2 separate regions of the Homo sapiens genome follow, and region 2 is linked to region 1. The links come from fine-mapping of genetic effects on gene expression. A gene starts in region 1. The other region holds a variant in brackets. All regions are shown on one strand. Distances are from middle to middle.

The links. PIP is the estimated chance that this variant, and not a neighbour inherited with it, causes the effect.
Region 2: its variant is fine-mapped to the expression of SELENON in whole blood (TOPMed, PIP above 0.99).

Annotation. Positions count from the first base shown.
Region 1 is chr1:25,798,843-25,801,743 of GRCh38, reverse strand. SELENON (selenoprotein N) reads right to left here and starts at 1,551. Exons shown (of 12, transcript NM_206926.2): 1 at 1,331-1,551; 2 at 584-701. The coding sequence starts at 1,513. RefSeq lists a silencer at 1,687-1,826 and an enhancer at 1,636-2,357.
Region 2 is chr1:25,729,520-25,732,420 of GRCh38, reverse strand. The region is part of intron 2 of MAN1C1 (mannosidase alpha class 1C member 1); the gene reads right to left. Among named protein-coding and RNA genes, the nearest start is that of SELENON, 69 kb to the left of the region's middle. The variant T/C (reference allele first, on the strand shown) is at 1,448.

The DNA of each region.
Region 1 (2,901 bases):
TGAAATACTTAAATACCTGGCACGGAGGAGGTGGCCAAGGAATGGTTTTTTTGTTTTTTTGGTTTTGCTTTGTTTGTTTGTTTTGAGACAGGGTCTCACTCTGTCGCCCAGGCTGGAGTGCAGTGGTGTGATGTCAACTCACTGCAACCTCTGCCTCATGGCCTCTAGTGATCCTCCCACCTCAGCCTCCCAAGTAGCTGGGACTACAGGTGTGCACCACCACACCCGGCTAATTTTTGTATTTTTGTAGGGATGGGGTTTTGCCATGTTGACCAGGCTGGTCTTGAACTCCTGGGCTCAAGCGATCCTTCCATCTCCCAAAGTGTTGGGATTACAGGCGTGAGCTACCTCGCAGACCAAAGAATGTTAGCTGGTATTATTGCTCACAAGTCTGAGAAAAACAGGCTCAGGGGTTGCTGGAGCAGCTCGCCCAAGCCACCAGCTACAAAGTGTCAGAGCTGGGAGGAGTCCAGGGCCTCTGAGATCCCACGAGCTTCCCTCCACTCCAGACGGCCGCTCCTGCTCAGTGAAGACACCGTTGGCCAAGGCGCCCTCCTCCCCAGCCGCCAGTCTCTCCTGGTACCTGTTAGCTTCTCAGCAATGGGTTTGAACTCCTCAGGGCTGATGTACATATCCCCGTCAGTGTCCAAGGAGGAAAAGAGAAAAAGGCCATCTGTCCCCAGGGTCTTCAGCGCCAGTTCCTGCTTGGGAGGAGAGACTGGGCTGGGCACCATTTGGCGGCCTGGTCTCCTGGTCCCCAACAGGCAGTTGCTTCCGCATGGAGCCCCTTCTCCCACCATCTTCCTGAGCTCTCCCAGTGCCTCCCGGTCCATCTGTGCAAATGTTGCCTCTGAACTGCCCCAGAGCCTCCAGTCCCTCCTGGTCCCTGCTCATCCACTGTCTGGTCCGACTGCCCCCTCCCAGTTTGTCCCCACTCCGCCTTCCGCCTGGCCCTGGCTGCTTGGCCCTGTTCCTCCTGCACCTTCTGTCCTCTCCTGTGTCCCCTCCTCACTGTCCCAGGGCTCCCCAGTAACCCTTTAAGACTCTGCGGGAACCAGCTTCACTGTGTCCAGGTCACCCCTCTGGATAGAGACCCCTCCAGTCTGTCCCAGCCCCACACTGGCCTCCGTTCGCCTTCCCCCCATCAGCCCGGCCCCAGGCACCCCCCACCCGCCTCCCGTGTCCCCTCCTTCCCGTGCTCCCTCCCGTCCAGTCCCCCTCCGCCCTCCGCCTCCCCCGACTCGTCCATGCCCATGTCCCCCCTGCTGCCGAGGCTGGGTCCTTCAGTCCCCGCTCCCGCGCTCCCGCCCCAGCCAGCTCGGGCCCGGACCTGCCGCGCGGCCGCCTGGGCCTCGGCGTGGCGGGCGCAGACCCGGACGGCGGCGGCAGCGGCGGCGGCCAGCAGGGCTCCGAGCAGCGCCAGGGAACGGGCGCGGCGGCGCGGTGGCGCGGGAGGCTGCGCGGCGGGGCCGGGGCTGGGCGGCCCGCGTTGGCCCGGCCGGGCCCGGCCCATGGCTGCGGCTGGCGGCGGCTGCCGGCGGCCCGGGAAGCGAAAGAGCGGGGCGGGGCCGGGGGCGGGGCGGCCGGGGCGGGGAGGGGCGGGGCGGCCGCAGGGGCTGGGCGGGGGGTCGCTGGTTCCCGGCTTCGCAGCCCGGCCAGAGCCCGGGGCGGGGTCAGCTACACCGGAACGCCAAGAGGGGCTGATCGCGTCTATGCGGTCGGGTCCGTAGTCCCGGCCACCCCAGCCTCCCCAGGCCGCTTCCTGCCTCTCCGCGCCCCTTCCCGTGCTTCCGTTCCCAAAGCTAAGCCAGGCCTCTGCGGCCCACTTGCCTGGCCCAGCCCAGAGAGCGATTCCAGACTGGGGACTGGGACAAAGAAGGGGCTGGGGAGAAGCCACACACCCTGTGCTTTCCTGGAGAAGGGGCGTCGGGGGCCTCTGAGGCCTCGTGTCCTCCTCTGCTGGCAGCCGGGCACGAGGCCAGAGACTGCTGAGGGGCATCCGTCCATCCTTATCCCACCAGTTTTCTAAAAGTTCCTCTGTCATCTAGAGCAAGACAAATTAAAAAGAAAGCCCAGCCCCTGTTCCCCTCATGTGCAGTTGGGGGGCCACCTCCGCAGATGCATGGGTTATGGGGATTGGCCTTGTTCCAGGCACAGCAGGTGCAGCTCTGAACCTGCACTTCCCTGGGCCCAAATTTCCTCATCTCCACCAAGGAGTTAAAAGAGCCCCCCAACCCCCACCCTCCGGGCTCTGGTCTGGTGAGGGGAAGGCGAGGCTCCAGCCCCTCAGCAGCTGGAGCTACCAGAGGCCCTGGCTTTTCTGGAGAACAGCATGCGGCATGCTTGGAGGAGGGCCTTGGAAATAGGGGTGGGTGGTGTTGAGGACATATTTTCATGCCTGTCAATCCCCAGGACCTTGGTTCCTTGGGGCTCTCTTCCATTCTTTCAAAGCCCCCAGTTACCATGGGGTGGCTCTAGATGTCTCTACCTGCATTTTCTCAGGCGAGGGTGGCAGCTGCAGAAGCCTCTAGACAAGAATTCTGAGCCCAGAGGTGAGCAGTGCCTGCCTTTGCAGAGCCCCACCAACCCCCCCAGCGCAGGGGCACCTGTCAGGCCTGAGGGATCCAAAGGATGCTGAGCTCTGCCCATGTGCTGGACTTCAGGTGGGGTGATTTACACATTCTCTCACTCTGTTCTCAAGCCACCTTGTGAGGTAGAGACTGCTTCCCTGGTTTTCAAATGAAGAAGCCTGACCTCTGGCACCCAGGTCTATGGGTCCAAATCTCCTGCCATCCTGCCTCCCAGGCTTCCCACGGGATGACCCGGTCGACTGAGTTGGGGGTGGGGTCCTGCCTCCACTGCCCATCCTGTTCTTCTTTGGTGGCCAGCCATGGCAGCACC
Region 2 (2,901 bases), 69 kb after region 1:
CTAAACCTCCCAGGGCTGATGAACAGGGAGCCAGGACTCAACTCTGGCCATCTTCCCTGGTTGCTCTGCCCTTCACTGCTGTGCCATTCCATTCCTGCACAACTTGGGAGACTGGGCCTGGTTTGGAGGGTCCAAGAAGGTCCCAGGGAAGTACTCTTGGCTTTGAGACCACAGGCTACCTCCTGAAGGCCTGTGGCTTAGCCTGACCCTATCTCCCACCTCTGGGCTGGAGCAAGGCCCCCCTGCAGCAGGCACTACCTTGCAGAGAGCTGCCGCCTCTCCCTAGGAGCCTGGGCACCCTCTGCAGGAGCCCCCCCAGATGCCCTCGAGGGATGGCTCTTCTTACCTACACCATTCTGGGCCCCACCACTGATCCCCTGGCCCAGGCTCACTCATAGGAGGGTCTGAGTTGGTCTTTTTCTCTGACAGATGGTAGCCCTGGAAGGAAGAGATCCTGCCAGATGCATCTTTGGAGCCACCAAAGAGCCTAGTGTGATGCCAGGTGCATGGTAGGTTTGGAGTAAATATATAGTAAATTAACCCTGACATAGAACAGAGCAGGAGCCGAGAGCACACATGACCACAGGCCAGACAGGTGGCCTTCTCTCCATCAGGCCATGACGAATCCATCTGGTTTACTCCCAGCATCAGTAAAGAGGAGACCAGCCCACACTCCTATAGACCAAGGGCCTCCCTTTTCTTTGGTCCACAGGCCCCTTCCAGAACCTCACAGAAGCCACTCAGGCTTCCCCTTGCCAGACTTACCTGTGTTAGAGAGGGAGGAAGGAGCCTGAGACAGATTCCTACAAAGGACAGAGTAGGGCAGAAACTTTGGAATCAGGTAGACTTAGAATAAAATCATAATTGTCCTATTACTAGCTGTGTGACTTCTGGTCAGCTACCTTATCTCATGAGCCTCAACATCCTCCTCTGTGAAATGCAGATAATGTAGACGACTGAAGCCACTGATGCTAGTGGATACACAATGAGGTTTGTTTTCCTTAAATGTAAATGGACTACAGAGGATACCTATGAGTTGCCTCTCATTTGATGATGATGATGATGATGATGATGATGATGATGACGATGATGATGATTATTGTTATTTTTTGAGTCAGGGTCTCACTCTGTTGTCCAAGCTGCAGTGCAGTGGCACGATCACAGCTCACTGCAGCCTTGACTTCCCTGGGCTCACGTGATCCTCCCACCTCAGCCTCCTGAGTAGCTGGACTACATGAGCATGCCACCACGCCTGGCTAATTTTTTTGTACAGACGGGGTTTCGCCATGTTGCCCAGGCTGGTCTCAAACTCCTGGGCTCAGGCGGTCTGTCCACCTCGACCTCCCAAAGTGCTGGGATTACAGGCATGAGCCACCAGGCCTGGCCTCATTTGATTTTTTTAAAGCAGCAGCGATTGTGGGGGAAGCACAGGCTTGTGGTCAAACCA[T/C]GTGCCTTGGCTCTGTGGCTTACCAGCCTGTGACCACAGCCAAATGACTTAACCTCTCTGAGCCAGCAGCGAGTCTGCATCTGTCCAAGGTACTAGCAATAACCCTGTCGCAGATGTGGGTGGCCTGAATCAGGTGAAGGGTGCAGGACTCCATGAACAGAGTCTGGCAGGAGAGTGAAAAGGAGGAGGAAGTGCCCACACAGGGAGAACCCCCTCCCCGCTTGCCCTGTCCACCCACCCACAGCCAAGCCAGGCCTCATCCAGTCGTGACAGCCCTGAGCATGCTTCTGGGGCAAGAACTGCCTCTGTTTCAGACCTCAGTGCCCAAACAATTCACAAATGCAGCAAACGTGCCACGGCCCAGGAGACAGCTCTCCGCTTCAGAGAAAACACACAGTTCAATTTCCTAAAGATCGAAGCCCAGGAGCATTTCAAGGCTTTCCTGGCGAGAGCAGTTCTCAGAACTCAGGAGGCACCACCCTCATGTGACTGAACAATTAAAGCCCCTAGTATTTGTCATTCTCAGCTAAGGTTTTCGAGGATGGCTGAGAAAACTAAAAAAAAAAAAAAATCTGATTTTGGCAGTGTGGCTTTCAGAAATATATGGTAATCCATTTTTGTCAATTCACAGAAGGCACAGCTCAAATCATTAAAAAGCCATCGTGCTTAATCATGCGTGGAGAAGGCCAGTCTCTGCCTCTGAGATCATTTTAAAACGGTTTCAGGGTAACTGTCAAAAACTGACAGGGAAGCAGGGAGGGGATTATGACAGACCATAATCTGAGGAATTTCTCTTTCTGGTTCTCAAAGGGTAAGGGATTTATCTGAGAGGAAATCACCACCCAGACCTTGGCCTTGGTGCTGGTGGGGACAGTGGTGAGGAAGATTCTAGGATGCATCAGGCCTGACCTCTGTCCTTACGGAGGCTGCAGCTGCTTTCTCAGAAAGACAGTAAGCAATTTCCCAGCAAAACAGCAAGTAAATGAATGATTATGAAGCCTTGTGACAGGTGCTAAGAATAGGTGGAAGTTTATGCAGCTGTTAAGGCCTGGCTGTGAGCCACGGGGACCTGGGTTTGGAATTTGACTTTGCCACTCTGCAGCTGTGTGACCTCACACACACTCCTCACAGACCTGGGTTCCTCATCTAGAAAATGGGATGCCTGGCCAGGCACGGGGGCTCATGCCTGTAATCCCAACACTTTGGGAGACCGAGGTGGGCAGATCATGAGGTCAAGAGATGGAGACTATCCTGGCCAACATGGTGACACCCTGTCTCTATTAAAAATATAAAAATTAGCTGGGCGTGGTGGTGGGCGCCTGTAGTCCCAGCTACTCGGGAGGCTGAGGCAGGAGAATTGCTTGAACCCTGGAGGCAGAGGTTGCAGTGAGCCGAGATCATGCCATTGCACTCCAGCCTGGGTGACAGAACTAGATCACATCATTGCACTCCAG